4 separate regions of the Homo sapiens genome follow, and regions 1, 2 and 3 are each reported to be linked to region 4. The links are microRNA targets in miRTarBase. Many come from high-throughput screens and were not tested one by one. Region 4 holds a microRNA gene; each other region holds the end of a gene's coding sequence.
The links. The annotated mature microRNA hsa-miR-325 reads CCUAGUAGGUGUCCAGUAAGUGU and lies in region 4 at 4,710-4,732, opposite strand. An mRNA with a match to its seed (bases 2 to 7 or 8) in the 3' UTR can be bound and repressed. Matches are read on the target gene's strand: a 7mer-m8 pairs with bases 2 to 8, a 7mer-A1 pairs with bases 2 to 7 and ends in A, and an 8mer does both.

Region 1: the mRNA of RBMS1 is a reported target of hsa-miR-325. Seed matches in the 3' UTR shown: 7mer-A1 at 3,238-3,244 and 7mer-m8 at 3,010-3,016.
Region 2: the mRNA of KLHL8 is a reported target of hsa-miR-325. Seed matches in the 3' UTR shown: 7mer-A1 at 2,312-2,318.
Region 3: the mRNA of DNAJB9 is a reported target of hsa-miR-325. Seed matches in the 3' UTR shown: 7mer-m8 at 3,259-3,265.

Annotation. Positions count from the first base shown.
Region 1 is chr2:160,270,514-160,278,211 of GRCh38, forward strand. It overlaps RBMS1 (RNA binding motif single stranded interacting protein 1), which reads right to left. Exons shown (of 14, transcript NM_016836.4): 12 at 6,790-6,870; 13 at 5,117-5,201; 14 at 1,638-4,251. The coding sequence ends at 5,124. LINC02478 (long intergenic non-protein coding RNA 2478) reads right to left here and starts at 1,382. Exons shown (of 2, transcript NR_103775.1): 1 at 1,207-1,382. RefSeq lists an enhancer at 1-199.
Region 2 is chr4:87,156,640-87,164,052 of GRCh38, reverse strand. KLHL8 (kelch like family member 8) reads left to right here. Exons shown (of 10, transcript NM_020803.5): 9 at 1-175; 10 at 411-3,950. The coding sequence ends at 534. Among named protein-coding and RNA genes, the nearest start is that of KLHL8, 60 kb to the left of the region's middle.
Region 3 is chr7:108,571,549-108,579,246 of GRCh38, forward strand. It overlaps DNAJB9 (DnaJ heat shock protein family (Hsp40) member B9), which reads left to right. Exons shown (of 3, transcript NM_012328.3): 2 at 169-395; 3 at 1,351-3,302. The coding sequence starts at 179. The coding sequence ends at 1,805. Among named protein-coding and RNA genes, the nearest start is that of DNAJB9, 5.5 kb to the left of the region's middle. RefSeq lists an enhancer at 7,448-7,698.
Region 4 is chrX:77,000,755-77,008,452 of GRCh38, forward strand. It overlaps MIR325 (microRNA 325), which reads right to left and starts at 4,747; the gene lies at 4,650-4,747. It overlaps MIR325HG (MIR325 host gene), which reads right to left. Exons shown (of 3, transcript NR_110406.2): 2 at 6,522-6,626.

The DNA of each region.
Region 1 (7,698 bases), not on the chromosome of region 4:
AGAGGTCGGTGACCTTTGTCCCAATGGCGCTGGCTCTTTTCCTTTTTGGCTACCCTAATGGAATGAGGATATAATCAGTCATATCTTAACATTCATTGAGCCCCGGCTCAGGCTGGGAGGCACTGCCTTTCTCCTAGTGAATTTTAAATCAGTATTTGTGGGATTTAAGCTCCAGCGGATAAACCTAGAGCCACTGGCCATGAAGGGTGTGGCAGTGGGGTGAAAAACGGGACTCCCGCCTCCACTCCCTGGCTTTCCTCATTCCAGCCACTATAGAGGGGAAAATACGTAGACCACAGAGCAACGGCCACACCCTCTTTCCTCTCCTCCAACCCCAGAATTCCACTTCAGTCTCAGAGCTTTCAGCTAGGTGGGGTTTATCCCCAAACATGCCACAACCCCTCTAGTTATATGGGAGCGGTAACTGTGAACCACCATCGCTGGCTTGATCCTCCCTTTTCCGTGGATTGGTGCTCCTGAGTATGTTTACCGGTTTCAGTACATAACACAGCCAGATAGAGGGCCGCGGACTTCAGCGGCGAGAAGCTACAACAAAAATAGGGTGAACAAAAACGAAGGTGCCCAGGAGCCTGAATTGCATTTCTTTCTTACCTTTGGTCATAGAAAGGAGCACTTAGGTGTTTGGCTGGAACGCAAAGTGAGACCAGAGCTTACATTCTTAGCAGCCTGGGTTTGTCTCGAGAGGCCATGCTTCTCTCCTCCCTGACATTTTGCTCTCAGAAGCACCAGTTAGCATCAGAGGAATGTTGTTTCCTTCTCTGAAACAGCCATCAAGTACCAGCGATTTCTTGGCTCCGGCAAGTTAAGTGCTCTGACCCCTCCCTTATCTAACTCACCCCGCACACCATCCACATGGCAGGGGACGCAGCCAGAAATGGAGCGGACTGCATCTTTTCCTTGCCCACTCTTTTTATCACCATGACAGAGCCACTGGACACCAGGAAATAAATACTGAACCACCACACTAAAACGTTTACTCCACTTTGGGCAGAAGGAGCCTATTTTGCATATTAAGTGCCTCCTATAAAGCAGTCAAGTGAGGGAAAGAGGAGTTCTCGCTCCTCCGTGAATGCTGCACGGGAGCCTCCAGTCGGGAACAGCTGAACAGGTAGCTCTGAAAGAGGACCTTGGTCATAAACGCATAGATAAGATTATCCCGAGGTTCTCGCCCACATGCTTCCTTACCACAGGTGGGAGGGCTGCTGTTAGGCTGTCTTCCTTGCTGAGCATTGACAAGCAATGAAATAGTTGAGGCGTAGCAGCAAGAAAGGAGGAAGAAAAAGGGCCTGGTTTTTTGGTCTTTAAGAACAGACCACTAGTGGTGTATTTTGGGCTGGATATTTGCTGAGCCGACCGTTGACGTGCTGAGCTGACGGTTGACGTGCTGAGCTGAGGGTTGACGTCTCTGGTCATTACACAGATTTAAATAACCAGCAAAAGTGGGGTGGAAAGGTTTTTCCAATTGTTTTCAAGGAAATGTATTTTGAGGATATATTGAATCTGACATAACTTTCAACTCACTTTCAAACCAATCTACTGAGCTGAAGAAAGAGATCAGAAATGAAATGAAATTCTGATATACACTTAATCGACTTAAAAAAAATTGACAGGAAAAATAAAATTTCAGATGTTTTTTATTCAAAGGTTCTCAAAAGAAATAAAACAGAAAAGCTAACAATCTGATCAAATGTACAGTTCAAAAATGTCTTTTGGCGTTTAACAACAAGTCCTAGGAAAGAAAACTACAGAGTTATCTTGAACCGGACAAATAAGTTACCACTGGCAAGTCTGTGGCACTAGTAAAACAAAAATAAAAAATTAACTCTCTTGATCATATAGATATCTCTATGAAAATCTTTTTTTTTCAATCTGTACAAAAGGTCTTTCTTCATAAATTAATTTTTTTATAATTTAATGGCTGTCTACTATGTGATGTTTAACTGATTTTTTTTTTTTTATGTACAGAGGTTATGTTTCCCAAATCTTACCCAGACGAGTATGGCACTTAGTTCAGACATTTCTAGCAGCAGATTTCCCCTCCCCTCTAACCGAGCTATCAAATTTCTGTCTTAACTAATGCAAAAATATCAAGTAGTGAGAGACCCAGGTTTATAACTGTACTAGGTACACAGAGGGTGCTGCGTTCAGTCTGGACTTTCACAAAGCAGTAATATTCCAGGGAGCATAGAACCAATAATACCACAACTTTAAAAAAATGAAACAAAAACAAAAACAAAAACACATTTCTCTTATGACTATGTAATTTTCACTAGAATCTACACTTCTCAGAGCAGCAAGGACTTTTGAAACTATGAAATGTCACTGACATCTATCATCAAATACAAGCATAAAATTTAAGAACTAAAAAATACTTGAAAGAAATAACTGCTTAGCCCTAGCTCCTGAGCTAGGAGGATTTGGTCTGTGGAAACAGGGAGGGCCAGCAACCTGTCCCAGCACAAAAGAAAATAGACTCTGAGGTAGATAACTGATCATACACAGCTGACCAGACAAGTACACAGTTTTGGAAGACAACTTAATTTACCATTGCTTTTAAAACATATGCAATTGCCTTAATAAAAGAGCTTTAATAACAGTGAATTATCTTATATGTACTAAAGTAGAAATAACTGTGTATTTATGAATCAGGAATTTCATAGTTTCAAAATTGGTTTTCTTTACACTTGAACACTTGTAGTGATGATGTAAAGTGTGGCACTGCTTGGATCCAAATCTTCCTTCATGCTTTTTTGTTTGTGTGTGTCCATACATCAATTAAAATTATAAAACCTAAATGCAAAGGTACAAAAAAGGCACATTCTCCTAACCGCAAACTGGTCCGGCAAAAATAAAGAGCACAGAAGATGTGATGCTGAGACAAGTTGGAGCTACTGGTTACTGGCTCTTCGGTCTTTGGTGAAGTTACCTTTAAAAGTGCCAAGTCATTTTTATTTTTCAAATTTACCTAATAGAGAGAGAGAGAGAGAGCTAGTAGCCAATCGTTTTGCTTCTATTCGTTATCTCAGCTTATGTTTGAAGATAAATCCTTACTTTTAGCTTTTGCCACTTTGTTGCAATAGCAACATTTTTCGGTTTGCCAGATTTCAGGCATAATTCTCATTCTAAAGCACTATCATTAGTATAAAGGAAGGACAAAACATTCAGTGACTCCCCTCCCCCACCCCCATCCCCAACCCCAACACTACCTACACTAAATCTAGTACATCAAGTTAGCTTTTTTTTTTTCCTGAAAAAAGGCAAAAAAGACTTTACATTGCATCATACAGCAGATATCCTAAATCAGTCAAACTATCAGAGGAAACTGTTGGCGTACAGCCTTACAAACAATTTACCCTAATAAAAGTTCCCCAGTCAGAAAATGTGTTTCACACAAAACATTTTTCCCTTCTTGCATTTCACTACCTTACACATTATGTGAAAAATCATTAAAAACACCTACTACATATTTAAAAAAGCCAAAATTTCAGCAACTTTTATTGACTACCTTTTAAAAGCCCTATGCTGCTGTTTTACAAGGCATAATAGACCAGCTCATTTGGTCAAAGCATTCTACATCATTAGTTTGAACTAACTTTTACTGAAACAGCTACAGCATCAAAAGAGTTAAGGCAAATTGGAATTCATAGAAAAGGATAAGACACTTCACACTACGTTGAAAGAAAGACAGAAAGCTAAGAAAAGAGACACTGACGGCAACACTGAATTACAGCAACACTCGCACTGCAAGCACAGAACACCATGGGTGAAGTCGGACTATTTAAACTTCAGAAAGCCCATTTCATACAGCTGGAAAAAAAAAACACAAATTAAACACAAAATGAACAAAACCACAAAAATCCGGTCATGCACTTGGATAAGTCTTCATGGTCTTTGTGCATACCCAGAAAATTGAAGTTTTCTTTTCTTTTTTTTTTTCTTTTTCTTTTTTTGCATCATAACATTTGATAAAAATCTTTTGTTTTTGTTTTTTGTTTTTTTTTTTTTACTAAAATAAACCTGTTCGGGGGAACAGCTACTAGATGAATTTAAGGGTTTTATGCACCTTATAGAACTTATAGCAAAAATAGTTTTAGTTGATTTCATTATAAATAACGTTTTCAAGAACCTGTGCAAAACTGTCAATAATTTCCTAAAGCACAATTGATCAGAAAAATCCATGATTGTTCAGCCTTCACACCCTTCTTCATGTAAGAACACCTTTCTGTACATCTGGAAGAGAAAAATAAAAGACAAATGCTTTTGTAGATTTGGTGTGAAACACTACAGAGCTTTGTAATCTGTTTCTTGTTTTAAAGAGATATGTGTTTGAAAAAGGTTATGCTCATCACTGATGGTAGACTGATAAATGCAGACTCTGGAACTGATGGTTACTTTCAATGCCTGTCACATCCAGGACTTGCAAAATACTTTCTTTTCTAATTTAGAGCCAAATTCATTTGGGTCTCTAAAGAGTGACTTTATGAAATCAAAAATACATGTTATCACCAGGGCAATCCAGAAACCAAGGTATTCTATATCACCAGGGCAATGCAGAAACCAGGGTATTCTAAGTTCTACACAGCTATTTTATTACAGTCTGCATGGTAAAGTGAAAAGTTTTGAAATTTGTGGTTCAAGTGAGAGTTGGGAATATAATCTTTCAATCTAAGGATATTGACATTTATCTAAATTCATAATCAAGATGTTGCTAAACTTGTAATGCTAGATTGAGCAACATCTTATGCTATAGGTCCTCCAGTTTCTGAGTATTAAAGTAATATGATATAGGATACTTGTATTATAGAACAATTTTGGTTCTTGGTGTTCTCTGATGTTACAGATTTTTATTTTTTTCTTTTTAGTGGGGAGAGTATACATTTGGCTTCAGTATAAAGCATTCTCTTTAGACAAAATGATTAATCTTAAATTCATAAAATCACTGATTTTAATATTTCAACAAGACTAGATGCCTTGGCCACGATTAAAGCAGTATGATAAAATCCGAGTTATCCCAATCACCATTCTGATTTTAAAAAAAGCCCTATAGATTGTGCTTGATTTGAGCCCCCCAGTTATGAAGACCTTTCCCTCATACCTCACAGTTACTTATTAGGTTGAAAGGTATATGGAGAATGGTCATTAGACGTCTCGACAGCCACCTGCTGTTGACCACTTGCCTCCTACAACAAACAAAGCAGAATGGATGAGACATGTTAGTGAAAAAACCTCAGCTCTGCTACTTAGGCCTGACTGAATCCAACAGTGCCTTAAAAACAGTTACTCTTTAAAGTAAATTTCTTCACGTCATGTAGAGCTTTCAAGGTTAATCATTTCCCTAAGCAGCTGGCATGTCTAACAGACCCAAAGCACCTCCCATCCAAATGTTTATGACTTTCCTATTCTTATCAAGCTACAGCATATCAAACAAATCTCTTACCCTCTTATCCCCTGGGGACAGATGTGATTTGGAATTCAGTATTTTCAGATTTTATAATCTGAAATGTGGTATGCATATGCTGTATATCATTTAATGCCTCCAGTAGGGTCTAGGGCTGCACCTCATAAGCAAACATATTAATAGTTCTACACTGGAAGCCATGAAGCAGCACAGTTAAGTGGGATCAAGATTTTGTCTCATCTCAATTCAGGTTGAGTTTTGCCATAGGTCAGGTTTTATGCTAAAGTAGTTACAAAGATAATTTTTATTTTCAGATTTCTTTTTGGGTTTCAGATTGCAGGTAAGGAATTGTAGGCTCTGGTAACTGTGGTTGTCAGTAATTGCACAAACAGAAGTAAAATACTACTACCACCACCACCACCACCACCACCACCACCAACACCTACTACTACTACTACTGCTACTACTATCACCACCACCACCACCACCTCCACCAACAGGCCAGAGTCCTATGATCCTTTCCTGGAATTGGAACCTTTGGGATCTGCCTAGTGGGCAAGATCAACTGGATTGATACATTTCCTTGAAATTTTAAGGATACTTTGCAGGAAAATGCCACGTTTTCTCTCTAACCATAATTCAAATGCTAGACTTCTTTCTTTCATATCAGTATCTTCCATAACAAGAACAGTTATCTAGCCATACTAACAGCCTCTGTAAAAACAGCTATAGCTTCTTCTTCATCCCTGTAGCAGTTTCAAAACAGCTTTCTCTTTTCCACTAAGTATCTTAACTACAACTGATTTCTTTTCGTCATTATTAATTATCATTGATACGATCTTTAGTACTGGGACTGCAAACTCCAGATTTATCTTATTATGTCTGTAGTATCATTTTATGAGAGACAAGACAGAACGTCCGAGGGGTATGAAAGGCACTATAGGCTTAGAAAATATTTCTGGGAGTCTTAAGAGGTGTGGCCTGGATGTTGTTACCCTAATTTGTCATGATCATAGCTCACTGTAGTTGCAAACTCCAGGGCTCAAGGGTTCTTCCTGCCTCATACTCCTGAGTAGCTGGGACTACAGGTCCATGTCACCATGTCTGGCCAATTTTCAAACAATTTTATTTTTTGTAGAGATGGGATCTCACTATGTTGCCCAGGCTGGTCTCTAACTCCTGACCATAAGCAATCCTCCCTCCTCAGCCTTCCAAAGTGTTGGACTTACAGGCATGACCCACCACATCTGGCTAAACGCAATTCTTTATGCAAATATTTGACGTCTGGTAGATTTTTCTGAGTTCTATTTAATTTACCCATTTCTGAAACTACTTATAGCCAGAATGGTCACTGGATGGTCTCTACCAACCTCAACAGGAACCGCTGTCGTCTGCATATGTGCATACTGTGGCAAGTAGGCTCCTTGCATAGCTGACGTTGCAGGCATGTACTAGAAAGAAGAATGAGGTCAGAATGGGCAATGGTAAACCATGCAAAATTTGGAGTACGTGGGGGGATTGTGAGATGGATATAATGTATTTGGAAATCTCAAAGAAGAAATTTAAATGGGCTACACCTCAAAGCTTAAATAGTGCATATAAATATGTCATATGGAAGGTAAACTGTTTTCTACTTTTTGAATCTGCTAAACTAAAAATTCCACATTTCTTTGGATTTGCTAACAAAGTGAAGATAAAAAAAGTTTATTATGGGTGAAGATAAAAAAGTTTGTCACTCTCAATAATTCAGTATCACTAATGTGTGATTTTAGAAGATCTCTCCTCAAAGGACCTCATTATTTTCTAGCAGCCCCCTAAACTAGTACCTAGTATTGTTTCTACAGGTAGAGCCCACAGGGGTAAGACTTATTAGACCTCTAACAGGTCACTGCAGATTAGGCAGCAGAGCCTGGCTTTTCTGACACTGACAGTCATCCTTTCCCAAAGGCAGGAGAAATTTCTAGTCAGTCTCATTGGATATGTGTGGCCCTGGCTTAGCCTTCACAAGAAACAGCTGTAGGTTTTGAGTGTATAAGGGGAAAACGCACCACCCTTTGTTCTTTTAAGCCACTATAGAATAGAGGCTAAATTAAAATCCTTTAGCCATCTTACCAGCAAAATGCTAAGCATCAAATCTGGAAGCTGATCTGGTGCCAGCTCAACCTCATTACCCAAAGGAGTCCCCTGGACTTTGGTGAAATATTTCAATATTAAGACCATGATTCAATACTCCCAAACTCCATAAAAGAAGAAATAAGCGAGAAATAATTCCCTGCTTT
Region 2 (7,413 bases), not on the chromosome of region 4:
GTTCAGTTGAGCGGTATGACCCCCGAAGCAACAAGTGGGATTATGTGGCAGCACTTACTACTCCCAGAGGTGGAGTGGGAATCGCAACAGTGATGGGCAAAATCTTTGCAGTTGGTGGTCATAATGGCAATGCATACTTAAATACAGTAGAAGCGTTTGATCCAGTGCTGAATAGGTAATTTACATGTTGTCTCCGTGCTTTATATTATCTTCTGGTATAATAGTAGATTACTTCAGAGTGTTAAAATGTTGCTAGTCGTAGTTAATACTAAGCTTTGGGATATCTTATCTCCCACTGGAAGCTTGCTGTCCTACAAAACCAGTCTCACATAGGGAATTTTTGTCTTTGGTTAGTATTTTGAGTAAAGTAAATTATGCTTTGTAACATTTTTTCTTCTCCGTCTTTTCAGGTGGGAGCTTGTTGGATCTGTGTCTCACTGCAGAGCTGGAGCAGGAGTAGCTGTGTGTTCCTGTTTAACTAGCCAAATTCGAGATGTAGGTCATGGATCCAATAATGTGGTTGACTGTATGTGATTTGAGTTCTGGCCACCAACAATTTAGTCATATCTGATAGGTACAAAAGAAAACCAAGATTTTGATATGACCACCTTTCAACACTTTTTACTGCAACTAGAGTCTTATTTAAATGTTAACTGTTGTATTGTGACTAAGTACAACTTTTGGAATGATACCTGAAGAATTATTAGTAATAGAGTTAAATTTGATACTTCCTGCTTTTGCAAATAATGGAGTAGGGAAGAAGATAGTCGAACTTAAAATCATACCTACCCTGAAAAATGCTTAAAGTAGTGCCAAAAATCTTGAAATCTCTCTCTCTCTCTCTATTTGGATGAATCAAAATGTAATTTGTTGAGTTTTGCCTTTTCTTTTGCCTAAAGATGTTAACGTCAGGCAGTGGGTTTTTCCTAGAGGAGAGATTAGTACCTATTCATTAACACAAGGATACATAAGAGACTTGCCCCTTTTGAAGATCATTTCTACTTGGTGCTGATGAATTTATGCCTAGCTTTTTTTTTCTAGGTGGTGATTTTTCAATTTCTTTTATATTTACGGAAGTAGAAAAAATGTTCTGTCTTTTTGAATGCCACTTAGCTGCATTTTCAGAAGCTTATAGGCTATAAGAAGCCTTTAATTTCAGTTTGAATTGCTAGGACACCAAAAGACCTAGCTGGGCTAACTCCATCCAAATGATTTTACAGTTTTATTTTTTCATCTTTTGCAAAAAGTATTTGTTACATAATCAAAAGGTGAACCAGAGGAAATATTGAACAAGGTTTTAGATCTGATGTTATTCTGGTGCCCAATTGAGAGACCTTGAGAAAGAATGATGCAGATTACATGACTCTAATGTGGGCAGTCTGAAAATATCTTTAACTGTCTTCTTTGATCATTTGATTTTGGATCCAAGATTTATCATCTCTCTATTTTGCTATTTGCCACCATCCTGGTTTTTCTGACTGTACAGAATCAATCTGCATTTATTTATTATCAGAAATGAATGCATTTTTACAAAAACCTTTTTGTAGACTGTAGTTTATTGATTAGTTCAAGCCCATCACGAACTAATTAAACATATTGTTGGTAAAAACAGAGATTGAAATTACTGTTTTTATCATATTTAAATCCCTCTGGTGTATTTATTGAAATTTAATTAAAAATATTTCTACATATTGATTTGAAGCCAGGATATTGATGGACCTACAGATTTAACAGCTCTTCAAAGTTTTAACTAGCATTATAAAATGGCCTATTCATTATATGTATATTTTTTTATAAATATTTATCAAGAACATGAAAATATTTTATTTTGTATTTGCAGTGCAGTTTGGCACCTCTCTTCCAGGCCTTCCTAAGTTTTTGTTAGTTGTGTCTTCGAATTTATTGTAGTTCACCGCTGGTCAGTAATCTGGTTCATAAGGAAGCTGGGGCAGTGAAAAACACTTCGTTGATCCATCCAGCCCTAAAGTTCATTGACTAATAGCTCATGCATCTTATTAAATGGGATTCTGGACTTCTACAATAGTGTGGAAAGCCACATCACAAAAAAAGCCACATCACAAAAAAAAGCCAGTGCCTATTGAGTATATCAAACCAAAAAAGAAAAAAAAAAGTTTTAAGAGGGGTCAGGCTGGCAGATAAAAGTCTCTTATGAAGCAGATATAAATCCAGTAAGCTATTTTTTTCTACCTATGGGCAAGTTCATAAGTCATTGCTGGATCTGAACCAGTGTTCTTTTGTGTAAGTACAACCATATTTCAGTCAGTCCAGAGGCAGTTAACCCTGTAGCACTTACTAGACTGGTGACAACTGGCTGGATGTGGAGAATAAGTGTCAAAACCTGGCTTCAATGTCTATTTCTTATGTCTAATGGAGTTCTTATATTACAGTGTTTGTTTAGCTATGGTTACTAATATGTTTGTTATATTTATTTTCGGGGAGAGGATCTTGTTATTGTTTCCTGAGATTATTTAAAATGTTTTTTCTTTGATGTATTTCTGTCTTTCTTATATGTAAGGAGTTATAAGGGTTATTATATTTTCATTTCTGGTTTTTACTATACAATGGTTATCTAACATACTAAGTTGGTACCCTACCTACCCGTAAAATATGAAATACTCAGAAGTAAAGTGTGTGGGCAATCAGAAGCATAGCCTTGAAGGACCTGACAGCAGTATGAAAAGATAAATAGGCCAGGCATGGTGGCTCACGCCTGTGATCCCAGCACTTTGGGAGGCCGAGGTGGGTGGACCACCTGAGATCAGGTGTTCAAGACCAGCCTGACCAACATGGTGAAACCCTGTCTCTACTAAAAGTACAAAAATTAGCCAGGCGTGGTGGCGCATACCTGTAATTCCAGCTACTCAGGAGGCTGAGGCAGGAGAATTGCTTGAACCCAGGAGGTGGAGGTTGCAATGAGCCGAGGTTGAGCCATCGCACTCCAGCGGTGAAACAAGAGTGAAACTCCATCTCAAAAAAAAAAAAAAAAAAAAGATAAAAAAGCAGAATCAATATGTGCACAGTTCTCTTTATCAGGCAAAAACACGTTTATTGAGACATGAAATGAGAATCAGGCTGAAGGAATCATGCAGCTGAAAGATGATTATATTCATAGAAATGAAGAGATGAAATATTCAAAGAAGATGGCTACTTTATTGTGAGACTTACCACTTTAACCTCATATGTTAACAGCACCTACCAAAAAATGATATGAGATAGAGCTAAAATACTGAAATTGCAAATGGACAAAATAAATCATGAAAATTTGTTTATTATTTCTTCAATAAATATTTCTAGGTGCTTTGTGATTCTTTCATTTAGTCATTAAAGCCATTGCTTTACTATATTGCGTTGCCACTTTAAAAACAAGTTACTTGACATTGTTTTTGACAGATTTCACTATATACTTATGTAATTAATTGATTATTTCTAAAATGTTTGAATAAACTTTGTACTCCCTCTAAGGAGTATTTTATTCATTCTTTTAATTCCCAAATGAACTTTGAACTTACAGTGCTGTTGAATGCCTTGGTAAGGACTTCTTGAAATTGCATAAACTATTCTTGTAAATGGTAAACTTGAGAATTTTCTTTGTTTCTTTTTTCTCTATGTCTTAAAGAATGCCTTTAGAATCTAATTCATGTTGTATCAGTTAAGAATGTTTCTGTGGTTTCTCGTATCAGATGTGTAAAGAAATTATTACTGGGATGCCATTGGCTATGTCTCTTTCCCCTTCATGTAAAATTCCAAGTGTCAGTAAAACTTCTCTATAATATTTTCTTAAAACCATTTATAAATTTGTGTTATAATACTCCAGAAAATCAATGTAATAAGTGGTCATATATATCACCAACTATGGATATCAAAAAGTTGGGGTCACATCAGTGCTATTTATTTAATTAAAATACATTGCATATTTCTATTAGCACAAACTTCTCTCTAAAAGGTCTGTGTAACTGCTTCTCATCATTATTTGATTGCTGTTATGGGATCCTGTCAAAACTGTGTAATTGTTTATTCTCCATTCCTCAAATACAAAATTGAGTAGGTTGGCTATATTTTTCTCCTTATATGAAGGATCTTTATGTTTAACTGAAAATTTTAGAAAGCTTTTCGTTTTCCCTTATGAAAATTAAAGGTTGAAGGTAACTGATGTAAGTAGTTTCACTGATCTTAAGCAGTTGTCTCTTCAGTAATTGCAGACTTGTACTATATAGAAATGAGACTATGCATTAGGATGACTGTTGTCCTTCCAAGTAGAAACCTTGCAAAGTTGTAGCTTTTTAAAAAAATTAAGGTTGCCATTGCTAAAACTTCTTTTGAAACTCATCTTTGAAAATAGCCTGAAGAGATCATTTGTAAGTCACTCAAAAGAATTAGTCTCATCATAGTCATATGTTAATCTTGACCAAAATCTTAACTTGATTATTCATCAAACATGATTGAAAATATTTCATGTCTATTTTCATAGGTAAAATCTACTTTCAAAGAAGTGAGGTTTTTCATCTACTGGTAAAAATGTTTTCAACACTAAACAGTTTGAATGAAATATTTCTAAAATCCTGAGCAATGGCAAGGTCAGTGAAAGAAGTGTATAGTCTCTTTGAGAGGCAACCTTATTTGAATGCAGAAATTCTGGTGCGTTTTTTGTTGTTTTTAACAAGTCACTCTTCCATTATCTTAGTGGTTTGAGGCTAAGTTCAGTAGAATATAAGGGGTTTCTTAGATATGAGTAATAGTTATGGGGAGTATTAGCTATCATTTAAAAAAATGTATCGCCTGTACCAGTCACTTAATAACATTTCTCATCTTTACAGTAATTTGATACTTCACCGTTAAAAAAAAGGTTCAAAAGTTAAAAAGAAAATAGATTCAAAGACATTAAATAACTAGTTGAAGATCACAACTAAGTTAGTGATTGACTAATATTCTTTGTGACTAAAAAACTCAACTGCTCCACCTATATCAGTTATACATACTTCTGCATTCACTAGGTAATACAGTATGCATACATTAAGAAAAGATCATTTCCTTTTTTTGTAGTCTCTTCTTAGCAGTATGAAAGTATTTCTGGTCACTACATTTCTCTTTTGTTGTTGTTGTTGTTGTTGTTGTTGTTGTTTTTTGAGATAGAGTCTCACTCTGTTGCCCAGGCTGGAGGGCAGCAGCATGATCTCGGCTCACTGCAACCTCCTCCTCCTGGGTTCAAGTGATTCTTCTGCCTCAGTCTCTTTTTATTTTATTTTATTTTATTTTATTTTTTGAGACAGAGTCTCACTCTATCGCCCAGGCTGGAGTGCAATGGTGTGATCTTGGCTCACTGCAACCTCCGCCTCCTGGGTTCAAGTGATTTTCTTGCCTCAGCCTCCTGAGTTGCTGGGATTACAGGTGTATGCCACCACACCTGGCTAATTTTTGTATTTTTAGTAGAGATGGGGTTTCACCATGTTGGCCAGGCTAGTCTTGAACTCCTAACCTCAAATGATCCGCCCATCTCGGCCTCCTAAAGTGCTGGGATTACAGGCGTGAGCCACCATGCCTGGCCTGGTCACTACATTTCTATAGGTAGTATTTGATGCATACATAAAAATATATGCAAGATGAAGACATAATAATAAAATACCTATGAAGCCACCCACTAAGAACTGGAGCCTTTCTGGTAGTATTAACCCTACCTTTGTGTTCCTTCTCAATTCCAATCCCCAGCCTACTCTTTAGGGGTAACCACCTCCTTGAATCTATCATTTCTTTTTTTTTTTTTTTTCCCTTTTGGTTTTTTTTTGAGATGGAGTCTTGCTCTGTCTCCCAGGCTGGAGTGCAGTGGCGTGATCTCGGCTCACTGCAAGCTCCACCCCCCGGGTTCACGCCATTCTCCTGCCTCAGCCTCCCAAGTAGCTGGGACTACAGGCACCTGCCACCATGCCCGGCTAATTTTTTGTATTTTTGTTAGCCAGGATGGTCTCGATCTCCTTACCTTGTGATCTGCCCACCTCGGCCTACCAAAGTTCTGGGATTACAGGTGTGAGCCACCGCACCTGGCCTCCCTTTTGCTTTCATACATATGTCCCATGGCTATATATCGTTTATTTTTGTGAACTTTATAAAAAATAGTATCATCCTGGCGGGGCGCAGTGGCTCACGCCTGTAATCCCAGTACTTTGGGAGGCCGAGGTGGGCCGATCACGAGGTCAGGAGTTTGAGACCAGCCTGGCCAACATAGTGAAACCCCGTCTCTACTAAAAATACAAAAATTAGCCAGGCATGGTGGCATGCATCTGTAGTCCCAGCTACTCGGGAGGCTGAGGCAGGAGAATCGCTTGAACCCGGGAGGTGGAGGTTGCAGTGAGCTGAGATCGCGCCATTGCACTCCAGCCTGGGCAACAGAGCAAGACTCCATCTCAAAAACAAACAACAAAAAAGTATTCTTTATGTAGTCTTATGTAACTTGTTGTTTTTATTCAACAGGTTTATTTTTACAATTTATTTTCTTGGGTCTAGTTTTTCTTTTTTTTTTTTTTTTTGCTTTTACAAACAATGCTGAAACGAACATTCATATCCAATTTTTTGGTGCTCATGTCCAAGAGTTTCTTTAGCATATAAACCTAGATTCAAAGTTGGTGGTTTGTAAGGCATGTGCCTGATCAGCTTTTTAACAGTTTTACAAGATAATGCCAAATTGTTTTCCAAACTGGTTGCACCGCTTTACAGTATGGTTTCTTATTTACTTGCTATCATAAGACCCAATTCTTTCCAATCTGTTAGGTGTAAAATGGTATTTTATTGTGGCTTTAAATTGCATTTTCCTTATGAATGTGACAGCACTCACTTCACTATAAAAGAAAACATGCATTTTTCTGATTAATAAGTTAAAAACATTTTCATGTTTATTAGTCATTCCTGTTCTGTGAAATATGTCTTGATGTCTTTTATTTTTCTGTTTTTGCTCTTATTTAAGAGTTTTTTGTATTTAGGATATTGATATTTTTGTTGTTTTTTTGTTGTTCTTGCACATATCTTCATCCAGTTTGTAGCTTTTCACTTTGGGTTTTTTTGTAAACAAAATTTAATATTTTCAAACGTGAGTTATTTTTATGTTTTAAGAAATTTGTCCTATCCCAGGGTCATAGTTGCTCAATGTTGCTTCTGAAAATCAAAAAAGTGTCTCAGTTAAGTTTTTAGCCTACCTGGAATTGATTTGTGTATGTGTGATATAGATTTAAAATTTTATTTTTTTACTATGTAGAAAATCAGTTTTCCCTGCGCCGTTTATTGACTAATGCATCCTTTCCTCAGAGGCTTTACTTACATGGAAATTTGCCATTGTAGCCAAATGTTTATTTGGGGACTTCCTGTTCTGTTCCATTGGTCAGTTTGCCTAAGCAAGGGCCAAGTAGC
Region 3 (7,698 bases), not on the chromosome of region 4:
TTGAGAGTTATAAAACTAAAAGTGAAATTACATGTGGACAGGTAATAGATACTGTATGCTTACTATTTTGATACTGCATTAGGTTTACCTTGTGTTGGATTTCTTTTAAAAGAAAAACGTTTTAAGATTAGCTCCATCCATAACATTTTTTTTTCTTTTCTGTTTTAGGATATTAGAAATGGCTACTCCCCAGTCAATTTTCATCTTTGCAATCTGCATTTTAATGATAACAGAATTAATTCTGGCCTCAAAAAGCTACTATGATATCTTAGGTGTGCCAAAATCGGCATCAGAGCGCCAAATCAAGAAGGCCTTTCACAAGTTGGCCATGAAGTACCACCCTGACAAAAATAAGAGCCCGGATGCTGAAGCAAAATTCAGAGAGATTGCAGAAGGTAAATAAATGACAATCTCTGAAGTGTCATGGGTATTAACTAGTAAGGAGAATGATAGCTAAGAAGTGTTTGTATTTGAAGGTTTTGTGGAGATGGGAGGTGGAGTGGGATTTATGTATAAATATTGGGTGATTCTCTGAGATTATTTTCTTATCACAGATGCTTTGATTCCTGAATAAATATATGAAAGAATAATAGATAATTTTATTGGTATACGTATCTAAAAATATTGAAAATCTATTCTATATTATTTATAAGATCACTGTTGCTTCTATGACAAAAAAGAATTTTAGGTACCCAAAATTCTTATCAACTAACTTATGAAACAGAATATTTTACATTTTAAACATTAAAGACTTAAAAATTAAACTAGACTCTAAAGTGCTTTATTCACTTGATCTGCTTTTCAAAGCCATATTTGTCTTCAAAGAAAAAATTGGAACAAATTTTGACTTCAGACTAGCTCTAAAACAAATTGCACCTGCTGAGCATTCAGTAATTATTGTTGGATGGAGGTAACTGAGTAGGGAGTTAGAATTAAACAGTTTACTTTAGTAAGGAGGTGCAAAATCTTAATTCCTATTAATTGGTTATAGTTGATGGTTTAATTTTTTAATACAATTAATGATTTCACACGAATAATATGAAGATTAAAGAACTCTGATTGTTGCCCACATGTTTATTTGTAGTAATGGTAACATTTAATAACTTTATTGAGTATTGCAGATGGCATTGTGCCAACTGCTGATAACTCAGCAGTTAATAAGACAGTTTCTGCTTTATTTTATAATTTTGATTAACTTGATGCTTATATTTGTAGTGTTTTGCTTTTATTTCTGATGCGAAATTCTTCCCTAAAATAATAGTATTCAGTTCACTTGCTTGAAGAGATTTGAATATATGTAATTTTGAATATTTTACCTTCAGTTACTAAAAATATTTTTGTCACTTTCAGCATATGAAACACTCTCAGATGCTAATAGACGAAAAGAGTATGATACACTTGGACACAGTGCTTTTACTAGTGGTAAAGGACAAAGAGGTAGTGGAAGTTCTTTTGAGCAGTCATTTAACTTCAATTTTGATGACTTATTTAAAGACTTTGGCTTTTTTGGTCAAAACCAAAACACTGGATCCAAGAAGCGTTTTGAAAATCATTTCCAGACACGCCAGGATGGTGGTTCCAGTAGACAAAGGCATCATTTCCAAGAATTTTCTTTTGGAGGTGGATTATTTGATGACATGTTTGAAGATATGGAGAAAATGTTTTCTTTTAGTGGTTTTGACTCTACCAATCAGCATACAGTACAGACTGAAAATAGATTTCATGGATCTAGCAAGCACTGCAGGACTGTCACTCAACGAAGAGGAAATATGGTTACTACATACACTGACTGTTCAGGACAGTAGTTCTTATTCTATTCTCACTAAATCCAACTGGTTGACTCTTCCTCATTATCTTTGATGCTAAACAATTTTCTGTGAACTATTTTGACAAGTGCATGATTTCACTTTAAACAATTTGATATAGCTATTAAATATATTTAAGGGTTTTTTTTTTTTGACAAATTCAACATTCAACGAGTAGACAAAATGCTAATTATTTCCCTGATTAGGAAAGTTTCTTTAAAAAACACGTAATTTTGCCTAGTGCTTTTTCTCTACCTGCCCTTGGGCTCACTAATATCACCAGTATTATTACCAAGAAAATATTGAGTTTACCTGATTAAACTTTAAAAGTTAATTGTAGATTTAAATTGTGTGAACCTAATGATTTTTGCAGTGAAACCTTTACTAATTCAAAGTTGCATGTTCTATGACATCTGTGACTTGCGTTGCAGAGTGTACATGAAACTGTATAATTGAGTCATTCAGTAAAGGAGAACAGTATCTTGGTTAATTGCTACTGAAAGGTTGAGAAAGGAATGGTTTGATATTTACCACAGCGCTGTGCCTTTCTACAGTAGAACTGGGGTAAAGGAAATGGTTTTATTGCCCATAGTCATTTAGGCTGGAAAAAAGTTGAAAACTTAACGAAATATTGCCAAGAGATTGTTATGTGTTTGGTTCCAGCCTAAAAATGATTTTGTAGTGTTGAAATCATAGCTACTTACATAGCTTTTTCATATTTCTTTCTTAGTTGTTGGCACTCTTAGGTCTTAGTATGGATTTATGTGTTTGTGTGTGTGTAGTTTATCCTCTCTCTCATCTTTATCTAGAGATTGACTGATACCTCATTCTGTTTGTAAAACCAGCCAGTAATTTCTGTGCAACCTTACTATGTGCAATATTTTTAAATCCTGAGAAATGTGTGCTTTTGTTTTCGGATAGACTTATTTCTTTAGTTCTGCACTTTTCCACATTATACTCCATATGAGTATTAATCCTATGGATACATATTAAAACAAGTGTCTCATACAACATTGTATGTGAGAGAAATATAAATATTTACAACCTGATATTCGTTGTTGTTTTATTGTTAAAAGTTTATTATGCAACTCTGGAGGTATAGAGGGCATATAAGCTATGGGACATATGCTGATCACAGGCTATATTCATGAAGTTACTTTTGACCAACCTGAAAACTGATAGGATTTTGTTTGTCATTTGGTAATTTCTACTGCATTCTTACCATCCTTCTCTCACAAATTTTGATAGCTTGAAGATCTTTTTAATTATAATTTTGTTGTATTTGTTTCCTAGGAGCAAGTGTTCCTGCTGCCAGTTCTTTCCTCTTTAGGCGTGGTTGAGAAAAAGCAGAAACTTTACATAAAGCTGTATTTCTTAATCATCTTTAATTTGAAACTTAAGAAAATGAATTTATTCTGTTATATTTATGTAACTTATTTCCTGGAAGTTATATCTACTAGTTTTGTTTGATAATAATAAAATTAGCTATACCTTGAATTTTGGGCTGAGGATTATCTGTAGCCTATTTTAAAAAAAATCAAGTTTTGAGACATTCCAGTAATATATAAAGCAGAAGAGTGTGGCTTGGGAGATAAATCAGAAAAACCACAATCAGGATGTCCTGGAGAAGCTTTAAGGATTGGATTTGGGTGAGGGTGCAGAATTCATTCATATTAATTTATTGAAGAACTGCATTGGAAAGCTCTGCTCTTAGCTACTCCCTCCAGGTAAACAGTTGTTAACAAAAGTAACTTTTTCCTCAGGCAAGGGACTAAACAAGTCTTGAAAGAATGGGGTTATTTGGGGGAAGACTTACCCATTGAGGGTATTAGGGTGTGAGGTGAAGGCAGAGTAAAGGTGAAGTGAATTTTCACTTGAAGGTCAAGGGGGTGCTGGTGAGAAATGGCAGCACTCCCAGAGTAAAGCCTCCTTATGTTGGCTTGGTGGGAAACAATTTCTCTGCATGCAGACCACATACTCACCTGTGGGTACCTGCTGGTTAAAAAACCCTGACAATTTAGCCGGGTGTGATGACATGCACCCATAATCCCAGATACTCTGGAAGCTGAGGTGGGAGGAGTTGAAGGCTGCAGTGAGCTATGATTGGCCACTGCCTGACAATTTACTGAGAACCATCGCTTCTATTCAAAAAGGAGGTCTAATGCAGACACATAACTGCTGAAGAAACTGCTTTTCTCAGCTATCTGTGCAATTTGATCTAATCCTTCATAAACACATACTGATGTCCAAAGAATGTCAGACATTTAAGGAAAACTGATAGCTAGGAAAAGAAGCCCCAATGATTAGCCCTGACAATGTAATTCAGAGATTGAATTTAAGATTCTAGTATCAGATTTTTTTAATAGAATATTGCATCAACAGATAAGGACAGTTCTTGTCTTAACCTGCTTACTTCAGGATTTCTTTAATGATGGTGTCAGAACAGATGAAGTAATGTGAACTTACATTTGGTTTACATTTACATCTAACAACCAAAGTCAATGGGAGGTAACAGATGTGTGGTACATGTGTTTCCTACCATGCAGGCCTACTTTTTCCTTTGAAATTCATATTCTTCCTCATATCTCAACTTTGTTACTCAACTCCCTCGCAAACTTCTCTCCAGAGGTTGCCCTAATGTGGAGCTACCTAAATTTATTGTGCAGTTCTTTTTACTGTTACTCATTATGATACACCGTAACTGGTGAGCAGGATGGTGGGGGTGATTACATTCTTATGGAAAAAGACAAGCAATAACCATATGAATAAATTATAAACTGATAAAGTATGGAAAAAAAATGTAGCACAGGAGAGGAGAATTGTGAGGGCAGGCAGGTTGAGGATGTGTTGCAATTTTTGACAGGATTGTCAGTGTTGGCCTCATTGAGAAGGTAAATTTGAGCAGATGCTTGAAGGGAATTGTTTGTACTGAAGGTGGAAGCATATGTGGGAAGTTGTAGGAATGGCAAAGAAGTGCGCATAACTGGAGGCCAGTGAGCAAACCAGAGTAGAAGGAGATGAATTCATAGATAAGAGGGGTTGAAAGCAGCCCTACAGATCACCTAGGGCCTTGCCAACCTTTGTAAAGGATTTGATTTTGGAATGTGATATGGTGGCTGAGCTTGGAGCAGATAAATGACTTGATCTTTAAATCATTTTAAAAGGGTCACTCCACGTGCTTTGTTCAGAATAGACAGAGGGGCAATGGTGGAACAAGGAGAGAGTTTGGAGGCTATTTCAGTATTCTAGGATGAGAAATTGTTGCAGCTTGTGCATCGCACGAGGGTGGCAGCAGTGGAAGTGGTAGGAAGTGGTTGGATTCCAGATGTATTCTGCAAGTACAGCTACCAGGATTTGCTTATGGATTAGATGTAGGTGTGAAAGACAGAGGAGAAAACTATGATTCTAAGCTTCATGTTCTGAGTAACTGGAAATACAGAGTTGCCTTTAAGATGGGAGAGGCTGCAGAAAGAAATTTAGGAGGAAAAATCAGAAGTTCAGCTGAGATATATCAAATTTGAGATGATGAGTAAATGGGTGGAGATATGTCTGAAGTTTGGGAGAGAGAGTGAAGCTGGAAATATGCATTTTGGGATTGTCAAAACATGTGATACTTAAAACTTTGAGAGTAGATGAAATTACTGAGGGAATGTGTAGAGACATAAAGAGCAATTGAATAACTGAGTCCCCTGGTACTCTAAAAATGCAAAAAGAAGATGAGGAGCCTACACAGGCATCTGATAAGCAGCAGCCAGTGAGTAATGAGTTTTGTGTCTTGGAAGGAAGTGAAATAAATATATCAAGAAGTAGAAAGCGGCTGGGCATGGTGACTCACGCCTGTAAACCTAGGACTTTGGGAGGCCGAGGCAGGTGGATTGCTTGAGGTCAGGAGTTCGAGACCAGCTTGGCCAACATGATGAAACCCTGCCTCTACTAAAAATACAAAAATTAGCCAGGTGTGGTGGCAGGTGCCTGTAATCCCAGCTACTTGAGAGGCTGAGGCAGGAGAATCACCTGAATCCAGGAGGTGGAGGTTGCGATGAGTTGAGATCATGCCACTGCACTCCAGCCTGGATGACAAAGTGAGACTCTATCTCAAGAAAAAAAAAAAGAAAAGAAAGAAGTAGAAAGTGATCAACTTTGTAAAATACTGCCACTAAATCCAGTAAGACGATGATTGAGAACTAACCATTGTTGTTTTTAGCAATACTGATATCAAAAATGACCTGGATGCCAATTTCTATCAAGTTTTAGGGGTGAGCCTGATTGAAGCAGGTTTAAAACAGAATGGCAGCAAGATTAAGTGCTCTTAAATCATTTGACAAAACATTTGTGGACATAATTTTTATCGTGGACTTTTTAGTAGAGTATCAGCTATGATTCAATCCATGTAGCAATAGCTTATTCTTCAGAATGATGTTCTGCAGGAGTAAGAAGTATGCTATGAAAAAAAAAATCATGTTTAAATAGATTTGTGAAATCTGGGTTGGGATTCAAACCTTGCTAAATATGTTTCTTTTTAGGTGAGTGCTAGGGTTTGAATGGTTATGTCCTCCCCATATTCCTATAGTATTAGTAGATAGGGCCTTTGGGTAATTAGGTCAGGAGGCAGAATTCTCATGAATGGGATTAGTGCCCTTGTAAAAAGGGCCCAAGGGAGATCACTCATTTTTTTCTACATGTGAGGTTAGAGAAGATCTATGAGGAAGAGGGCTGTCACCAGACAGTCAATCTGCTAGTGCCTTCATCTTAGACTTCTTAGCCCCTAGAACTGTGAGAAATAAAGTTCTGTTTTTTATAAGCCACGCAGTCTATGGCATCTTGTTATGCAAGTCTGAACAGACTGAGACAGTGAGCTGCTCAGAATTCTCAACATACTAATCTATGTTGTGAATCTTTGGTAGCGATACCAAATATTGTTTGCCCAATTTATTGGACCATGGAAACATTTTTACTAAGTACCCTTAACCATATCCAAGTGTGCCACAGTAAAAGTTTGGTAAATACTGGCCTAAATAAAAGTGAAAAAAAATCATATAATAAACCTTTGGAACATGTGCATGAACACATACCAAAGCAAGGATGATAGCATATATTATGTTGGTACTTGTGTTGCATTATTAAAAAAAAAGTATTTGAATTTACTATGATTGAAAAAGATTATCCTATCAGAGCCCATTATGATGGGCTTTAGCCTACATTTCATCAACAAGCTTTTCTTCTTTTGATCACTGTTGTAGCTACTTGAATAATATTGTTTCCTCAGGAGTATTTTATACCTACAATAGCCATCATCAAGCAAATTATAAGAGGACTATTATGTAAATGAAAACTCCTTTATTATTCTCCCAAGAAAATAAAAGCTAATAATTTTTGTTGTTATAGTTTTACAATAAGACAGTATTTGCAGACAGAAAAATCAAACTGTGACTATTAAGATAAATGGGAAATCATCTTATAGTCTACTAGGGTTTGGATGTTTGTCCACTCTAAACCTCATGCTGAAATTTGATCCCCAGTGTTGGAAGTGGGGCCTAATGAGAAATGTTAGGGTCATAGGGGTAGATCCCTCACAAATAGTTTAATGCCCTTTCTCAGGAGTGAGTTCTTTATTAGTTCCCACAAGAGATAGTTGTTAAAAAGAGCCTGACACCTCCCCTGTTTCTCTCCCTTGGTTCCTCTCTCGTCATGTGATCTCTGTATACGCTGGTTCCCCTTTGCCTTCTGCCATGAGTGGAAGCAGTCTGAGGCCCTCACCAGAAGCAGATGCTGGAGCCATGATGCACAGCCTCAGAAGTGTAAGCCAAATAAACCTCTTTTCTTTAGAAATTACCCAGCCGCAAGTATGTCTTTATAGCTACACAAAACAAACCAAGACAGTCTAATCCTTTTG
Region 4 (7,698 bases):
CTACAAAGTGGACATATGTGTGTGCACTCATCCACAAGCTTTTTGCCTCAAAGCTCAGAGATCTACTGAGAACCATGAGTAAGAAGTGATTGGGGGCCTAGAGACCTTGGGGAGGGAGACTTTGTCAGAAGTGAAATTTTCTTATAGATAGAAAGCAGCAGGGAGACACCAGAAGCTTCACAACTTGGATGGCTTATTTGAAGGCCCCATTCTGTCCTCACTCTCTTCTTGTTTTCTCTCTGTCCATGTATGTTTTCTGGAAAGTTGACATTCCAAACCTAATCCCATGTGCAGCCAGGCTGGCAAGTAAAGCTGAGTTGCCAATTACTTTGCTTTTTTTGGACTCCACTTTCCCTGAGTGGCAATGAAAATAATAATCCTACAGCCTTTCCTGACAAGTTCTGCAGGTAAGAGCTTGTTTTAGGTATAATCCTTCATGGGAGCTAAGGGCAGAGGAAAGAAGAATGGGGTCAATTAAATAACCTCTAGAGCATCTTTCTGATTATGTGACTCAGTCATCTGTGGGCTTTTGCCATTGCTGTCAATTAAGGTTGACACCAAGGCCAAGCAGACTTTATGAGCTAGGACATAGCTGGATCACCCTTAGGACTAAGAAGAGGAGAAGACATCATTCCAGATCCTACCAGAGCCCTCTACTTCTCCCTTTTGTTGTCATGTCATCTGTTTAGAAGAGAAGCCTGAGACAATTTTATGTGGGGGGCGGGGGTCGGGGAAGGGTGTACGTGCATGCGTGCGTGTGTTCCAACTTTCCAAGCAAGGGATCTCTTCTAACCTAGCCTAAGTTGGAATAGTGCTACAGGTCCAGGACCTTAGCCTTAGAGAGCAGAGCTATTCTTCCTGTCTCTTACTTCCCACTATGTAGCACTCAATGTTTGATATTGGTACTGGAGACCATGTGACTTTATCTTCCTTAAATATGGTATTAATTTTCACCCAGAAAAATAAAGCGATTAATGGAAATCGGGCACTTAAGATAATAAAAGGGAGTGTTTTGCCTTAGGGCAAAGCATAAGGATTTAATTTTCCCAGAATTCTCAATCTGATTCTGAGGCCAGCAACAACTAGTTTTGGGGCAGTACAAATACATAAGATGAAATCCCCAACCAGGGACCTGGAGCCAGAAGAACCCACAAGGGCTTCAAATGGCCCAGGTGTTGGAGGCCTTTTTAACAATGTGGCTGTAATCTACACAGTAACCAGACCAAGCAAGCCTGCTTTAGCAGATAACCTCAAAAGTGCAAAGATAATATTGAGATGTGGAGGAATATCAAGGGAGGCTCCACAAGAAGGATGGAGTTTTGTTTTTTTGATCTATTCCTTACTTAGGGCAGGGGAAGAACAGCTGTTTACAAGGGTGGATGGATGTGAGGGACACTATGAAGGCTTCCACCTGAACATCAGCCTCTTTGAGACTAGACATTTCACTGTTAATGTTAACAATCCATTTCTTTGGTTTAAGGTGTGTGAATTCCCAGGGCTGTCCCTGGAAAAAGAAGTATATTCAACCCTTGACAATAAATCATAAGGAAGGTAGAGGAGAACCAATAGAGGGAGGTTTGCCTTTGGAATGTGAAATAGTTCCTTCAAGTGAACCAGAGATTATAGAGCAGGAGGTGACCTTAGAGATTTTTTAATTCACCTTGAAACTTAACTATAATAAACGGTTCCCTCAGACAAACAGAAATGAGAGGAAGAGTTTGAGCTGGGAATAGAGAGAGGCTCTGGACTGTGTGGGAAAGTTGAACCAGGAAAATAATTTCACTGTTAGGAGGACTGGCACATGACCTTGAAGGGAAGATGCAAGATGGTATTGGCAAAGATGAAGGAGCACAGGCAAAACTAAGCCAGTGCATGTAGCATAAGTGTGTCTAATATTAAAACAGAATTTGCAATGAATTCCAAGGGTACAGAAAATTCTTTTGAAAGGCCAGACTTCTACTTGATGGTTTTCTTTGCTTTAAGTCGCTCGGGCTAATTGGAATGGAATGTTTCAGTTAAGCAAACACTCACTAGAATTCAAACCTGGTTATAACCTCCATTCAAATAAAAATAGATAGAAATGGCTGCAAAAGTCTCTCTGTTTCTCTATTTGGAATATAAAGTATAGAATGTACACTATTGAGGTTTGTTATGGACATATTCACGATGTTATACTATTTGGAATATAAAATTGAGAATGTACACTTTTGAGGTTTGTTATGGGCTTATTTGGAATGTTACAGGATGCAATATGACTTCCCAGAAAACATGGCAAAAATTGCAGCAGCAAGCTTCGCTCCTGCTAAGTTTCTTTCCTCTATCCAAAGTCCTGTCATAAGTATAGGAGTGAGACAGGGGAAAATGGGAAGATGAGGAAATGGAGTTTTCAAAAGATTATTTGGAAATTTATTCTTTTTTAACATTTGTTTGGAGGTTTTTGTTTTGTTTTAGATTTTGAAAGGGAAATGCATGCACATGGTAAACAATTCTAACATATTCAAAAGGCTATATACAGTTTGAAAGTCAGTTAACTTTGCTAGAAGAAAACACTGTTAAAAGTTCCTTGTGTTACTTTGTGATACCAGAGATAATCTAATCTACATTTAGAAACACACACACACCATAATTATAATTTTGGATCTTATAAAACCTTTGTGAAGGCTTCTCTGTCTGTCAGGTTTACTTCAGAACAACACCAGATTCCCGTGGCATGGTCTTTACCATGTGACCAAAATCATCTTCAAAGATTCAGCCAGGCCACTGGCCTCTACCTCTATGTTACATACTCAGAAGCCAAGCCATAGTAGGTAGGGGTAAGTAGGAGGGGATCCTGGGAATTGTAACAAAGTATCGTTCTCTTAGGAAAATTAGGATATTAGTACCTACCTCACAGGATTATTTTAAGCACTGAAAGAAATAATATGAATAAAGTGCTTAAAACAGTGCCTGGCATAGAGTAAGTGCTACATAAGTTTCAGCTGTTGTCATCATCACTATTATTGTTGCTATTGTGAAAGAGGACAGCTTAGGGCTTCCTGAAGCTATTCCCTATTTTCTCTGGGTTTTCTTCACAGGTACCTCCAAAGATGGGAGTTGCTGTCACTACTCTTCTTCTAGAATATTTTCCCCACCAAGATCTAAACTGTGGAGCCAGTTGGTAGCCAAAATTGTACCTCAAAAGCTCTCCTAGACACATGGAAAACTTGGCTTCTCTGCCTGATGTTCATCTCAAAGCATCAGTGATAAACTGTTTCATATGTTATTACTCACTACTATTCTTGTAAAGACCATGGAAATACATGGACAGACCGCCAGCTCACCACACTTTCTGCAGAATTACTCAGCCCAGACGTGTTGTTTTCATCTCCTTTGTGTGATTCAGTTCCTCTTCATTCCTACACCTCTCACCACTTCTGAGGAGTTACATGTTTCCAGCTAGCCGCAGACATTGAACTGCCTTATCTTGCTGGCTACATCTGCATGCAGCTGGTACCACTAGGACAGGCTGAACTACACATTCACAGATTAAACTCCCTAAGCAGCCTGAGTCTGCCATCTCATTCCCTTTGAAGCTCTTAGAGAAGGGGAAGCCAAGTTCACAGATATGCAGCACACCTTCTCTCACCTGTCTCTTTATTTGGGAGGGTGGGTGAATGACAACTAAGACAACTAGCATTTCCCTACCAAAGAGTCTCATCACTGACATCTCTTTACTTCCTGGTTTCTCACAAACATAAATTGAACATTCGACTTCTGGTACAAATCTTTGTACCATCACAGAGGGGCTTCCATGGGGATTAACCATAAAGCCTCACTTGCTTGACTCAATTCCAGTGACTTTTTCTACACTTCATTTATCCACATCCATGGCCCATGCAGGGTCTTTTCATCATCCAGAACAGCTCTACTTCTGAAATCTTAAATTCGTATACCCTACTCTTCAGCTACTTTTATTTTCCAGTGAGGGCTTTTACTTCCTTGCCCATACTACTCCTATTCTATGGGCTCCTGGTTTCTGTCAGTTTATCAGTCCATCCTAATTATTTTTTCTGACTTGCCTAGGCTCTATAATCTATTATTGCAACCATTTTCTTTTCTCTAGTTTTAACCACATTTTGACCTGGTACCACCTGAAAATTTATGGTTTCCTTCTTCAGGAGAGTTATTGGCACCACATGATAACTTCTTCAGGAGTTCCTGGCCAACTTTCTCTTCCATCTCTTCCTATATATTCAGACATCTCTTTTCATCAATCACTGTCCTAACTTCGAATCTTCACTCCTTCCCTCTCCAATGGTTCTTTGTCCTCTGCACAACAATATGCTGAAACCTCCCATCATTTAAGAAACAGTCCCTCCACCTTATCTCTTTCTCTGTTTGTTGCCCTGTCTCTCCTTTTCTTTCTAACCAAGCTTTTTAAAAGCAGTTTAAGAACAGTTTAAAAACTTTTAAAGAACCATTTACATTCACCATCTTCACTTACTCTTTTCCTTTTCACCCCTCAACACACTGAAATCTGGTTCTGTTTCTGGGGTAGATCCTCTCCTACCCGTTTGTACCTTTGTCAAAATATTAATCACTCTACTGTAACCACCACTAGGCCTAAGTACCTCAAAATGTAGGATGTTGAATAACTTATCTATGTAGTCCCAGAGCCTAGCACAGTGCTTGATTGATAGGAGGTCCTCAATAAACAAATTATGTCACAAACACTTACTGGACACCTACTAGGAACCAAGCACTGTATTGGTTCTGTGGACTTGAATCCATCTCAAAACCTATATTTAAGCAACTTTTTCTCACAGAACCTTTCTTTCCTTTGTGAATGTCAAGTCAGTATATTTAATTAAGCCATACAATCCCTGTCCCGTGCCGTGACTTTACTCATAATGGTCATTCAACATTTGTTGAATGATTGCTTGATAGAACTCAGCAGACCCAAAAGGACTAATTGTGAAGAGTTGCTGTAGGAAATGGCCAGAGAGAGGCCTGTTCTGAAATCTGGTTCCTTACAGAGAGCTTTTCAGGCTTTCAGAACCATTTCTGAGCAGTTCTCTAGAAATACATTCATTTGCAACTCTATCCCAACATGGCTGATAGGTTTTGGTAAACCCGTTTACAACCTCTCCATTTCCTTTGTCTTCAACTTCTCTCCCCTCTCTCCAGTCTTTCCCCCTACACCTATTAGACAGGTGCAAATATCTCTCCTAGTCACAAATAAGGAAAGACCTAAATTAGAAAACCTCCCTGGACTCCAAGGTTTCACATTACCTAATATCCTTCCTTTCTCCACTAATCTTCTGCAAGAATAGTCTGAACTTTCTAGTCCCATTTCCTTCTTCCCATTCATTCCCACACCAAATAGTCAGAAAGGCTAGGATATGAATTAGAATGGTCAGGGAAGGGTTTCATGGACAAGTAAGGGCACAGGATGCAGAAGAATTTTGTGATTAAAGTGCAGAATATGGAAATGTATTGGAGAGGTATTAGGTTTTTCTATTTTATTTTTCATCTGCTTTATAATATTCTTTTTTTTAAGTAGGTAACACATGTATATGATACATAGTTCAAAAAATGCAAAATGAAAGTAAGGGTTCTTCCCAATCCCACCAAGTTCCCTTTTCTAGAGGCAATCACTGTTAAAAGTTTCTTATGTATCCTCCCAAAGATGCATTTGTAAATATTTACATATATGGAGTGCCTATACAATATGGTAGAGCACAATAAGAAGGGCAGTGTGAACTGACAAGCACAGAAGAGGCTTTGAAGAATTAGGGAATATCATCTTCCCTCCAACATACTCTTCCTCTTAAGTCCCCACCTCCATTAATAGCCTTTCCATCCTCCCAAGATGACCCAGGCTCAAAGCCTCTGAACATTGGCAGGAAATCTGTTACTAACCAGAGTTTAGTTTTCTAAAATGGTTTTCTGTACATCACAATTAAGCCAATTAACATTCCCTCCACACCTGCCACTGCTATTTTCAATTTTGTTTTGAAAATATAAGTCACATACATCTACTCCTCACCACTTTCACTACCCCAGCCTCCATTAGGCCCTCGTGACTTCTTATCTTCAAAATTGAAGTAACTGCCTTCTTCATATGGTTGTTAGGTACATTTGGTAAAATTAAATAAGCATGGTAACAATTAGCAGGCTCAACAAATATTTGTTCCTTTCTCTTCTCCCCAATACCTCCCAGCCACTATACCACCCCACCACCCCATCAACCTTAATCCACTCCCCATATTACATACTTGGTTTATCAAAACAACGTCGAATTCTTGAAATTTTTCTATATCTATCCTATATTGATCCCAAGATCAGAGCTTCAGAATATGAAAACTTACCTGAACTCTGAGGAAAGGCACTAGAAAATTCCAAATACAGCTGTCCCAAAGGAAAACCACTCTTAGTACCTCTCAAAGGCATTGCCTTTATAGTCTAGGGTAGTATCATTGACATGTAGAAACTAAAAAGGTTATGATCTAACCTATATTTTTCCCCTAGAAAAACCTTACCTATTCTTCAGGACTCCGTTTGAATTCCACCTTCTTCTTGAAGTCTTCCAGGATTCTGCCCATGTTAACTCTTTTCACCCAAGTCTTAATGAATCTTACCTTTCTCTGCATTACAAAATGTGGAGGGAAGGGAGGGAGGAGAGGGGAGACAAAGGAAGACATGGGATGGGGAGTGAGAGAGTGACACCCAAATCCTCGTTCTGACAAAACCCATTGTCCCACCTCCTAAAATATGCCTAATTGAGTAAGGTTAAAGTGATGGTTACCAAACAGCAGGTAAGGGTATCCCCTAGACCCCCTAGTTTCTGGTTAACAATTAAGGACATATAAAATAAAATATACTTTAATCTTGAATAAACTTATTTATTTTCAGGTTAATTTACTTTTGTATAAATGATTTTGGCATATTTTAATTTTTATTATCTATATCATAATCTGATTCATTTCAATTAAATCATGAACATTTTCCCATGTCATTAACTTTTCTTTAAAATATTTTTTAATAGTTTTGTAAGTCTCTCATCTTGTTTCCATCCGTAATATATTTGTTCCCCTATTTTGGGGCATTTTTCTTTTTATTCCCATTTTTGTTTTTACAAATAATGTTATTTGAAGGTATGTAAATCTTTACCTGAATCTCTATTTATCTGAATCTTTATGTTTAGACATGTTGATAGATAACATCAAACTACTTCCAAAAATGATGTACCAATCTAATCCACTGGCACTGTACAAGAATGACCACCTCATTGCACTCTCACCAGCATAGACTATTATCTTTTCTATTTTTTTCTAATTTGATAGGTGACAAAAATGACATGCCATTATTAGTTTTTCTTTTCCTTTTCCTTTTTTTTTTTTTTTTTTTTTTTTTTGAGATGGAGTCTCACTCTGTCACCCAGGCTGGAGTGCAATGGCACGATCTCGGCTCACTGCAACCCCCGCCTCCTGGGTCCAAGCTATTCTCCTGCCTCAGCCTTCTGAGGAGCTGGGATTACAGGAGCCCACCACCATGTCCAGTTAATTTTTTTTATTTTTAGTAGAGGCAGGTTTTCACCATGTTGGCCAGGGTGGTCTGGAACCTCTGACCTCAGGAGATCCGCCCGCCTCGGCCTCCCAAAGTGCTGGGATTACAGGCATGAGACGCCACGCCCGGACAAGAGTTTTTCAATAATGT